3 linked regions of the Homo sapiens genome follow. The protein of the gene in region 3 interacts with the protein of the main gene of each other region in a pairwise test. Each region holds a gene or a part of one and is shown on either strand. Other genes may lie near its edges.

Region 1 (3,651 bases), on a different chromosome or scaffold from region 3:
CTGCACACCAGTCTGTGCAACAGAGTGAGACCCTGTCTCAAACACACACACACACAACCTCAAGTAAAATGTGGAGAAATTACTTGTTGCCATTTCAAGATGAAAATGTGTTACACTTTATTCTTCTATTCCTTTTTGATAAAGGTAGTTCTGATCGGAAACAATAGAGACAAAATAAGCAATGCTTGATTGTACAGTTTTCTGGTAAAATTATCTCAACTTTCTCTTTCTTCTTTTTTTTAATTTTAAAGAAATGGAGTCTTGCCATGCTGCCCAAGATTGAATTGAAGTCTGAGGCTCAAGTAATCCTCTCACCTCAGCCTCAGTAGCTGGGACTACCGGCACAACTTCTCTGTTTTGGATAATAGCATCACCAAGCTCTACATCCTCCATGTTGAGCTTCTATTTACTATTAATTTTTTTCTTCAAAATTTCCTTCATGTCCACTTCTTTACAATAATTATACCAGCATTGGGATCCTTATAATTTCAGGCCTAGATTACTACACCATCTTTTCTACTTCTCTAATCCGTTTAATCTAAGACCAGCCTAATTCCTAGCTGTGTTTCATTTTGCCATAGTCAGAATCTAAAAAGGGATCCACAATCTAAAAAGCAGGGGAATTGTGTTATTCACAGGCCTCTTAAAATCTGATGAAACTATGGCATTTCCTCCCAGAAAAATGAACAACAGATGCACACAACAAATTTTCTAAGAATTTCTGACACTCCTTCCCCAACACTTTAGGTGTCTTCCATGGCTCCCCTTGCAAGTTTAAACTCCTAAGGGTCTGGCAGAACCCCCTGAGCATATTCAATTTCCTGTTATAAATTCTGTACTCTACTGGTTACCTCACTGTCAACCTTCAAAAACCTCATGTTCATTTTTGATTCCATGTCTTTGAGGTTATCCTGGATGCTAGAATACATTTCCTCTTCACTACTGCCTATTTAAATGAATTTCCCCAAAAGGTTTGCAAACTTAGTTGAACTCAAGCAGTACAGGTCAGAATGTAACCTCAGGACTTTGGAAGGCCCAAGTGAAAGGCTTGCCTGAGGCCAGGAGTTCAAGACCAGCCAGGCCAACATTTTGAAACTCTGTCCCTATTTTTTTTTTTTTTTTGGAGATGGAGTCTCGCTCTGTTGCCCCAGCTGGAGTACAGTGGCGTGATCTTGGCTCACTGCAACCTCCATCTCCCGGGTTCAAGTGATTCTCCTGTCTCAACCTCCCAAGTAGCTGGGATTACAGGCGCGCACTGCCATGCCCGGCTAATTTTTTGTATTTTCAGTAGAGACGGGATTTCACCATGTTGCCCAGGCTGGTCTCGAACTCCTGAGCTCAAGCAATACACCTGCCTCAGCCTCCCAAAGTGCTAGGATTACAGGCGTGGCTCACGCCCAGCAGGAAGCCTGTCTTAATTATCTCAACTCAACATCTTCCACACTGTTTAAAACATTCTTGAAAATCTGGAAATCTCTGAAATCCTTTCAGGCAGTCTTCGAGGTCAAAATTATTTTCATAAGAATTCAAAGACTTCGGCTGGGTGCGGTGGCTCACACCTATAATACCAGCACTTTGGGAAGCCTAAGCAGGCGGATCACTTGGGCTCAGGAGTTTGAGACCAGCCTGGGCCACATGGTGAAACCCTGTCTCTACAAAAAATTTGCCAGGCGTGGTGGCACATGCCTGTAGTCCCAACTACCTTGTGGGGCTGAGGGAGGAGAATAGCTCGAGACCAGGAGGTCGAGTCTGCAGTAAGCTGTAATCACACCACTGCACTCCAGCCTGGGTGACAAAGCGAGATCCTATGTCCTGCCCCCAAAAAAAGTTTTTTTTAAAAAAAAGGAATAATAAGCCAGGCGCAGTGACTCACACCTGTAATCCCATCACTTTGGGAGGCCAAGGCAGGAGGATTACTTGAGCCCAAAAGTTCAAGACCAGCCGAGGCAACATAGTGAGTGAGACCATGCCTCTTTTTTAAAATAAATAAACATTTTTTTTTAAAATAAGAAACTAGCATTTGTTCACTTTGGGTGTAGTATCAAAGGACAGGTTAATACATCTTTAAAAAGAAGAACTTTTAGGCCGGGCGCCGTGGCTCATGCCTGTAATCCCAGCACTTTGGGAGGCTGAGGCAGGCGGATCACCTGAGGTCAGGAGTTCGAGACCAGCCTGACCAACATGGAGAAACCCTGTCTCTACTAAAAATACAAAATTAGCGGGCCATGGTGGTGCATGTCTGTAATCCCAGCTACTTGGGAGGCTGAGAGAATTGCTTGAACCTGGGAGGCAGAGGTTGCGGTGAGCCAACATTGTGCCATTGCACTCCAGCCTGGGCAACAAGAGTGAAACTACGTCTCATTTTTAAAATCCTAGCTTTTTCTGAGACAGAGTCTCTGTTGCTTAGGCTGGAGTGCAGTGGTGCAATCTTGGCTCACTGCAACGTCCACCTGCCAGGTTCAAGTGATTCTCCTGCCTCAGCCTCCCAAGTAGCTGAAACTACGACGTGTGCCATCACACCCGGCTAATTTTTGTATTTTGTTATTTTTTAGTAGAGACAGGGTTTTACCATGTTGGCCAGGCTGGTCTCAAACTCCTGACCTCAGGTGATCCGCCCGCCTCAGCCTCCCAAAGTGCTGGGATTACAGGCGTGAGCCACCACGCCCGGCTGCATTTTTTCTTCATTCAGGAAAAAACACATTCGTTTTTAAGGTTTCAATTTTTTAAAGATATTTCCTCATATTTGCATAAATCTGACTTTTTAAAATCGTATTTAGGCTGGCCACAGTGACTCACGCCTATAATCCCAGCTCTTTGTAATCAACGAGAAATATAGGACTGGGGCTACTCTCTGGGAGTCCGAGGTGAGCGGATCACTTGAGGCCAGGGGTTTGAGACCAGCCTGGCCAACGTGGCAAAACCCCGTCTCTACTAAAAATGCAAAAATTATCCGGGCATGGTGGCACATGCCTGTAATCCCAGCTACTGGGGAGGCTGAGGCAAGAGAATCACTTGAACCCAGGAGGCGGAGGTTGCAGTGAGCCAAGATCGTGCCACTGCACTCTAGCCTAGGTGACAGAGTGAGACTCAGGTCTCAAAACAGAAACAGACATAGAAAAAATCTTTGCTGAATCGAACATGTGACTAATTGCATAAGACATTTAAAACACAAGATGTATGAGAAATAAAAAATAACAAGGTCACAAACCTAATGGCTGAGGAAGCCTATGATACAAATCAAGAATTTGAAAATGGAAAACAAAAAGATGATAATGAATGTGATTTATACACTCTGCAACATGGAAAATCTAAGTGGATAATCCTGGAATCAACGAGAAATATAGGACTGGGGCTCATGGAAAGCATCTGGCCTAGAAAGAGATCTGGAAATGAATAAATTGAGATTTGGGGACATATACTAATTTGTACCAAAGTAACATAACAAAGCCTAATCGCCAAAAATATATAAAATAAAAGGAGACATGTAATACCTGGTTAAATGTTTCTTACCTACTATTTTCCACAGCCTTCATAGCATATTCAACTTGAAAAACTCTTCCGTCAGGAGAGAATGTAGAGGCTGACAGGTCATACTTAAGGAGAAAAGGGCAACAGTAAGCTTGTATCTTTGGCAGTAATGACCATACAGTT
Region 2 (3,651 bases), on a different chromosome or scaffold from region 3:
TGGTTAATTTCTGGGTACTTGCTAGATGCCAGGCCCTGTCTGAAGCACTTTGCACATATGATCACATTTAGTTTAATTAACTGGAGAAGAGAAACACCGCAGGAAGGTAGACCCTCTTGCAAAACCCAGGTGAAAGATAACAAGGATCTGAGCCAGGGCAGCGGCCATGGTGATGAGAGACAGATTAGCAGTAGGACTGAGAGGGCTTGGAGGCCAGCCAGATGTGGAACAAGGGAGAGGGAGGTGTGGAAGATGGTTGTGGTTTCTGGCCTAAGAAACTGGATAGATTCTATGCATTCAAATCAACCAATATTGGAGGCCCTTCAGAACGGGTTTCGGGGAAAGACAAGGGGCACTGGTTTAGGCAATGACTAACTGGAAGACTCCACACATCACCCAGAATACAAGCCTGCATCTGTGCTCTGACCTCACTCCCTCTCTGCATAATAAATCAGAGGGCTGGGCTGAGGTCCCTGAGGGCTGAAACAGGGCAAACAGGGACAGGGCTAGAAACATCAGACTATAGATAAAGAACAGATGGGAGATGCTCTTTCGGGGAATGAGCATGAACTTCTGCAGATTACTCCTCCCAAATGCCTGATGAGTGGGTGCTCCACTTCCCTACCCACATGAACATATCCACACACCACACGCAGAAACACATGAGTGCACACACACAAATACACTCGCACATGCATGCACACACACACATGAACACACAGCACAAACATGCACACACACACACGCACACACAGGCACACCTACATGCACACACATACACACACAAACACATATGCACACACACACCAGGATTAAAATACAGTCTGGCAACAGATGAGCCACAGAGCATCTCTACCTGGGCTTCTCTGGGAACTTTTGTGGGTAGAGGAACCCTACCTACTTCCGGCTATACCCACCTCTCAGATAACTGGATGGACAGCATCATCATAAGGCTGGGCCTTAGATGTCTCCAGTTTGTACTTATTTCCAAAGCAGCTACATTCTCATTTGAGCCTTAGAACAATCCTATGAGTTGGTGTTATCTCTAAATACGGAAACTGAGAGCCAAAGAGGTTCAATGACCAGAAGCGAAGTCTCCCGACCCTGTGGAAGGCAGCAGCCACTGCAGCAGGATGGAAGGGAATGAGTGAAGCGGATGAAGAGCAGGATCGCCCTGATAGAGGGCATCCCCATTTTTGTATCTCTCAAGTCCTTCCAAACATCACCCAGCTCAATCTCCCCTGCCCCCAGTTTCCTGTCTCAAAGCAGAGCTGGGCTGCATGAACCACGTCTCACCTAAGCCGGGGCCTGCAGAGGAGCCTGCGGCCCAATGGAGAGCAAATCTGAGCACCTAAGTGACAGAGAAGACAAAAAGGAGAGTAGATCTGTGTCCAATTCAAAGAGACAGAAGTGCAGCAACATCCTGTGCAGCCGGCTCCAAAAGGAGCTGCTGCAGCTTCCAGGAGGAAGTCAGTTGAGCCCAGAACCCCTCGTTTCCTGCCGTCTGCCCAGTGCTAATCTGAGCTCACGACAATCTCGGGCCACAGAGGTGGAAGAGACACTGACCTCCATCTGCCTCCGGTTTCTCAGCAGGCAGTCCCGCAGCACTGGCTCCCATTTCCTGAGCAGGGTGTCCCAAGAGTGGGCATCCCCTGAGCCGCTGCTCCCATCACCACCACAGCCAGCCAGTGAGGGATCCAGAGAACTGGAGGAGCCAGGGTCCATGTCTGGTAAAGAATGCATGTCACGCTCTGGCCTGGAGCTGTTCCTTGCGGCCTGGGCCAAGTCTGCAGAGACCCGTGTAGCCAAGAGACTGAAGGGCCGAGAGAGACATCGCGGGTCCTCGTGAGGCCCGTCCAAGCTGGCAGCTTTGGCTCCCATCTCCTGGGGGCTCTGGCAATGGGACTCAGCCTCTCTGGATGGTGGGCAGCCTTCTGCTTCTCCACGTTCCCCGGCAGAGCCAAGCGAGAGCCGAATAAAGCTAAAGCTTGAGGTAAAGGCACTGTGAGAGCCAGGAGGGGTTGGGGGGACCTCAGGGCCACAGCCAGGGCTGCAGCTGTTGCTACTCAACTCTGCTGATGGCAGAGAGCCTGCTGCCCGGACACGCCTTGCTCCATCGCTGCAGGCTGCCTCCCAGCTGGCGTCCAGGGTCTCAGAACTATCCATGGCTGCAAACTCTTGCTGCCACCCAGCACTCCCAGGGCCACACGGCCAGCTAAGCCTGTCAGGCAATCTGGTGCCACCTCTGAGCTGAATCCCAAAGTGCGCCGAGGTTCCTCTCACAGAGGTCACAGTAGGGGCTGCTGCACTCTTGGAAACAGGGCTCCGGACCAAGAGGCCTCTCGAGTCAAGGCCACACTGTCTGGCCCTGGACTCCGAGTGGTGGGACTCCTCGCCAGACACCCCTCCTGGGAACCGGAACAGTGTGCCCACTGCTGGGGAAAGGAACCCGATCCCAGGCCCTGTCGAGCTTCTCATGTAGCCCGGCCTCCGTGCCAGCCGCCGCCTCCGAAAGCACGCTGCAGGTGGTAAGCAATCCCGGCTGCCTGGGAAGAAAAGAAAAAACAGCACCATAAACATGCAGATCTTACTGGCCCAGCTGGAACTGCATCTGGAGAACATCCCTAGGTTTAAAGGTCATCTCTCAGTACACCTGTCAAAGATAGATGCTGGCTCAGTGGTCCCAGGGCCAATCCATTATGTAAATCCTGACAATCCTCAGGAAGTATTTGCCTGGAACATGTAGAAATCAACACAGCATCTCAGCTCCTCGGTTTAGCAGAGCAGCTGGCACTGCTGTACGCTATGCCAACAGGTCAGCATGAACACAACCTTGGCAGCTCCTGAACCCTCCAACATCTTGCCTGTTGGTCTTTTATGGCACCTCAGTACTCTCATCCTGGAGTGGGCCTGGAAAGCAAATGACGTGAAAGAGGAATGCCAGAGCATGCCTCTAAATGAGATCCAACTATTTACTCTAGCTATTCGTTGAACATGTGAATGTTCACTAGCGGAGCTATCCATGTCCCTGCAAGACTGATCTGTTGCTGCAGACCATGGATAGCTGGCTGTGCCGCAATGTATGGCCATCATCTCATCTCACTCAGTGGATGACAGGAGGCCTGCTTGATGTGTTCTCCAAACCAGCATTGCATTCCCTTCCCAGCTATGCTATAGGAATAGGAACAATAACAAATGCTGACTCCTCATTGACTGGTTCAAACCCTGATTGTACCACTTGCTGGTTGTGTGACCTTCCACAAGTTACTTAACCTCTCTGTGCCTCAGTTTCCCCATCAGTAAAGTGGTGATATTAACAGTAGCTCTCTCATAAGGTGGTTGTGAGCATTCAACTAAATGAGTTACTATTTGTAGACAGCTTAGAACAGTGCCTGGCACATATGATGATAAGAGTGATTAAAATGTTATTATTTTTAGATTGCATAGCACTTTGCTACTCATAATGTGTTTTAATTTACATTAATTTCATTCACTCCCGACCAAAACCATGTGAATCAATCCGACCCGAAACTATAGCTTTCCTTTTATATTAAAGGCAACTGAGATTCAGAGAACTTGACTTTCCAGAACCCCCTGCAAGTAGCCAAGTGACCAGGACAAAGTCTCTTGACTCTACTGGCCCACACAGAG
Region 3 (3,651 bases):
ACTGACCTATGATAATAATACCAAGTAGCTCCTTTTATAAATGACCAGCAAACTCTATTAGGGGGGTAAGGTAAGATATAACTCTAAATTTATTTAGCTATCTGCAAGTAGATTCTTTTAATTTTAGTGCATCCTAGCGGCTAATGGGATGATTTTGGAAATTCAGAGAACTTTGAATCCAAGAAGATTAACTTTTCTGTGAGATTCGTCTTACTCAGTGAAAAACCTTAGCTACCTGATAACTTGCTAAGTTGCAGTTAGAATGGAGTAAAGAGTAAAAAGAAAAGGAATATGTCTTGTTTAGAGCACATTTCAGTTTATATTCAGCTAATTTTTTTTGAAGAAATCTTTAGCTTTACTCCAGTGTGTTCTTTCTGCTACATCAAGTATAAAATATGTACACATTTATATGCATGTGTGTGTACATGTTTATACACACATTTTTTTGTTTATATATAAATGTAGATACAGAACTTTGTACTTGAGAGGGCTTCATTAGATGGTCTCATTCTACAGAAAAGGGAATTGTTTAAAGAGAATATTAAATAACTTACATTTAGATGTAAACAGGATATTTCACAGTTTCTTCCCACCCCAAAACTCAGTTCAGTAACTTCGAAAATCTTACAATCTAGTTCACTTTATTTGGGCTTTTCCACTGAAATTGCATTTGGTTAGAGTGATTTAAAAGTACTTCTGGTTAAGGCATTATTTCTTTCTAACTGCTATGCCTTATTGAAAAGACAGAAAAATTATAAACCTTATTGTGGGAAATAGAAGTGCACCGAGATTCTTCACATAAAGAAATAGTTTTCTGTTGCTTTTATGAGACATTGTGGATCCCATTTGGACACCATTCTTCCTTTTAGGTGTGGACATAGAGAATGTCTTCCTGATCTTAGTTCAGTAGTAACTGCTCATCAGATGTTGGCTGGGTCTTTTGAGTAAAGTGAGCTTTCTTTCTTGGGTGCCCTGAATCAAGCACCCTAACCGAGGGGAACTGGTGTTAGACTGGGAGGGCTTGAAGTATAAGTGCTAGGGCTTCATAGGATGTTTGTCCATTTGACGTGGCACTCATTCACCTGATTGAGCTCAGCTTTTGGGTTCTCGGTCCAAATTTAAGTTCTCAGCATCTGGTATCTGTCATGAAAGGATTATTAGACACATTACTTACCTTTCTTCCATTTTAGTGTACTGCTTTTATAAGAACAACTGATTCAAAATAAGGTACAGATTTATTTGTGAATATTTTGATGAGTGTTATGGAATATGAAATACATTTTCAGGCACCACGTGCTAAAATGAACCAGCAGCGTTCAAGGAGGTTCAGGGCATCAAAAGAAGGAATGGAAGCAGCAGTCGAGAAGCAGCGAGTCAGGGAAGAAATATTGGCAAAAGGTAAAGAATATGCATCTTGAAGTTGGATTTTTTCATAAGATGTATGCAGAATGAGGGGGTGGTGGCAACTTTTTCTTACAAAGAGGCAAGCTTTTAATTTAATAAGGATCCCAGAATATCCAGTGTTCACTGTTGAGGAAAAGTAGTTCATGAAATCTACCAATAGGCTTAATAGGCTTGTTTATTTTCAAACTCTCCAGTAAGAGGGAGCCTTGGGAATAGGGAATTCTGGTGGAGATTGCAGATTGTCAACTCCTCTCAGGGCCAGTGCAGCTCTTTAACAAACTTTTATGTCTCTGTAGAATAGAAATATAGTAAGTATTTTTTACTACTTTTCTCTGTGGCGGCTGTCAGAAAGCTATAGTGCTGTAAACATTTTCCTCAAATCAGCTTTGGTTTGCTTGCTTTTTGAAACTCAGAGGTCTATCTGAGGAAGCCGGAGGTGATTCGATCCACATTTACAGGCTGTTGCCAAGTCATTTGCATACTTTCAATATAGGTTGATGGAGCAGGCACAGTACTTATGGTTCCTTCAAGTTTGGAGGGGTTAGGGTGGGATGTCTTCATTTTTGCAGTTCCCCAAAGCCTTAAAATTCCTGGTGGCTACATGGGTAGGAACTGACTAAGCCTCAGAGAAAAGGAAGATCAGGGAGTGTTGATGCCAGTTGGGACTGGTTCTCTCCTACCACACCTGTGTGTGAGGTAGGGTATGGTTGTAGCAGGTTTGTTTGGTGTTCTGCTACTTAAGGGGGTATAATAGACCAGAAAAGCCACAGTGTCTTGGCTCCGGATAATTGCACTCTGCAGTTGAAAAAGGATGCCATAGTATAGCCAGCTCAGGCCTGCAATTACAATAAATTTTATATTACTTGAATTTTGCTGGAAGTGTACAAGTATATAGTTCCTTTAGCTGCAACTTGTAATTAAGACTCTAAAACCTGTTTGTATTTATAACAATGTTTCTGATTTTAAGAATGTCTTTTTTTTGAAGATGTGATGAAATATACTTGTTTCTTGAGAAGCAGCTAATAGTGATAGAGAGGAAAAAATAGGATTTTTATATTCCTCTACCTGATAATTGTATTTCTTATCCTGTAAAGCTGTGATGAACTCGGCATTTTAAATTTCATTTTTCTTAGGCACCTTTATTTTAGGAACTGTTATCAAAAAATATGGCCTCTAACTGGTGTGTGTGTGTGTGTGTGTGTGTGTGTGTGTGTGTGTGTGTATTCTCTTACAGAGTGAAGAACTTCATAATTTTTATGTAACAATATAATATCTTTTGTGTACCATATATTGTTTTACAGTCTTATTAAAACATAATTTAAAAGGCTGAGCACGATGGCTCACCCCTGTAATCCCAGCATTTTGGGAGGCCGAGGACGGCAGATGACTGGAGGTCAGGAGTTCAAGACCAGCCTGGCCAACACAATGAAACTGCGTCTCTACTAAAAATACAAAAATTAGCCAGGCGTGGTGGCAGGCGCCTGTAATCCCAGCTTCTCAGGAGGCTGAGACAGGAGAATCGCTTGAACCCCGGAAGGCGGAGGTTGCAGTGAGCCGAGATTGCACCACTGCACTCCAGCCTGGGTGACAGAATGAGACTCTGTCTCAAATAATAATAATAATAATAATTTAAATTTGAGAGATGGAATCTTATTTTCTTCCCAGTGAGGGAACATTTTTCCTCGGATGACGAGACTTCACTTTCTTTTGTAGTGGAACTTTTTGTTTTTGTTGTTCTGGCTTAATGTTGAGTAATTTATCTCACTTTTTATGGGGAGAACAAAACGTTGCCTCTTTTCTCTAGGTGGCTTTCTTCCTCCAGAAGAAATAAAAGAAAGATTTGACAGCAACTGTATTACACCAGTAAGTAGTCTCATACTTTGCTAGCTATTGCTAACTCTTAAATGATAGGTTAATTTATTTCTTTCTATCATTTTAGGGAACTGAATTCATGGACAATCTTGCTAAATGCCTTCGCTATTACATAGCTGATCGTTTAAATAATGACCCTGGGTGGAAAAATTTGACAGTAAGTTTCACATTTTGATACTTCAGAAAGATTAGGGTGATCATTCGAGGCTGTACTTTGATATGACTGACATTATTTATCCTTCTGCCCTGCCCCATAAAATGCTAGTTGACTGTTGGAAGAAAGAAAAGCTTCCAGGGTTTTTGGAGATGGGGTATCCTTGCATGGTTAGGTTTTAGATAGCTGAATTTTCTCTTAAAGCCAATTTTGTCCTCTTA

The links.
Region 1: the proteins of XRN2 (region 3) and PSMA3 interact in a two-hybrid assay, tested with the Homo sapiens proteins (one large-scale study listed by BioGRID and IntAct).
Region 2: the proteins of XRN2 (region 3) and DISC1 interact in binary tests that used the Homo sapiens proteins (3 or more experiments, as listed by UniProt).

The regions. Positions count from the first base shown.
Region 1 is NC_000014.9:58,247,692-58,251,342, reverse strand, and holds part of PSMA3 (proteasome subunit alpha type-3), read right to left. Parts: intron 3,594-3,651; coding exon 3,511-3,593; intron 1-3,510. UniProt on the Homo sapiens protein: Component of the 20S core proteasome complex involved in the proteolytic degradation of most intracellular proteins. This complex plays numerous essential roles within the cell by associating with different regulatory particles.
Region 2 is NC_000001.11:231,692,721-231,696,371, reverse strand, and holds part of DISC1 (disrupted in schizophrenia 1 protein), read right to left. Parts: intron 2,547-3,651; coding exon 1,567-2,546; intron 1-1,566. UniProt on the Homo sapiens protein: Involved in the regulation of multiple aspects of embryonic and adult neurogenesis. Required for neural progenitor proliferation in the ventrical/subventrical zone during embryonic brain development and in the adult dentate gyrus of the hippocampus.
Region 3 is NC_000020.11:21,327,273-21,330,923, forward strand, and holds part of XRN2 (5'-3' exoribonuclease 2), read left to right. Parts: intron 1-1,286; coding exon 1,287-1,398; intron 1,399-3,208; coding exon 3,209-3,267; intron 3,268-3,343; coding exon 3,344-3,433; intron 3,434-3,651. UniProt on the Homo sapiens protein: Possesses 5'->3' exoribonuclease activity. May promote the termination of transcription by RNA polymerase II.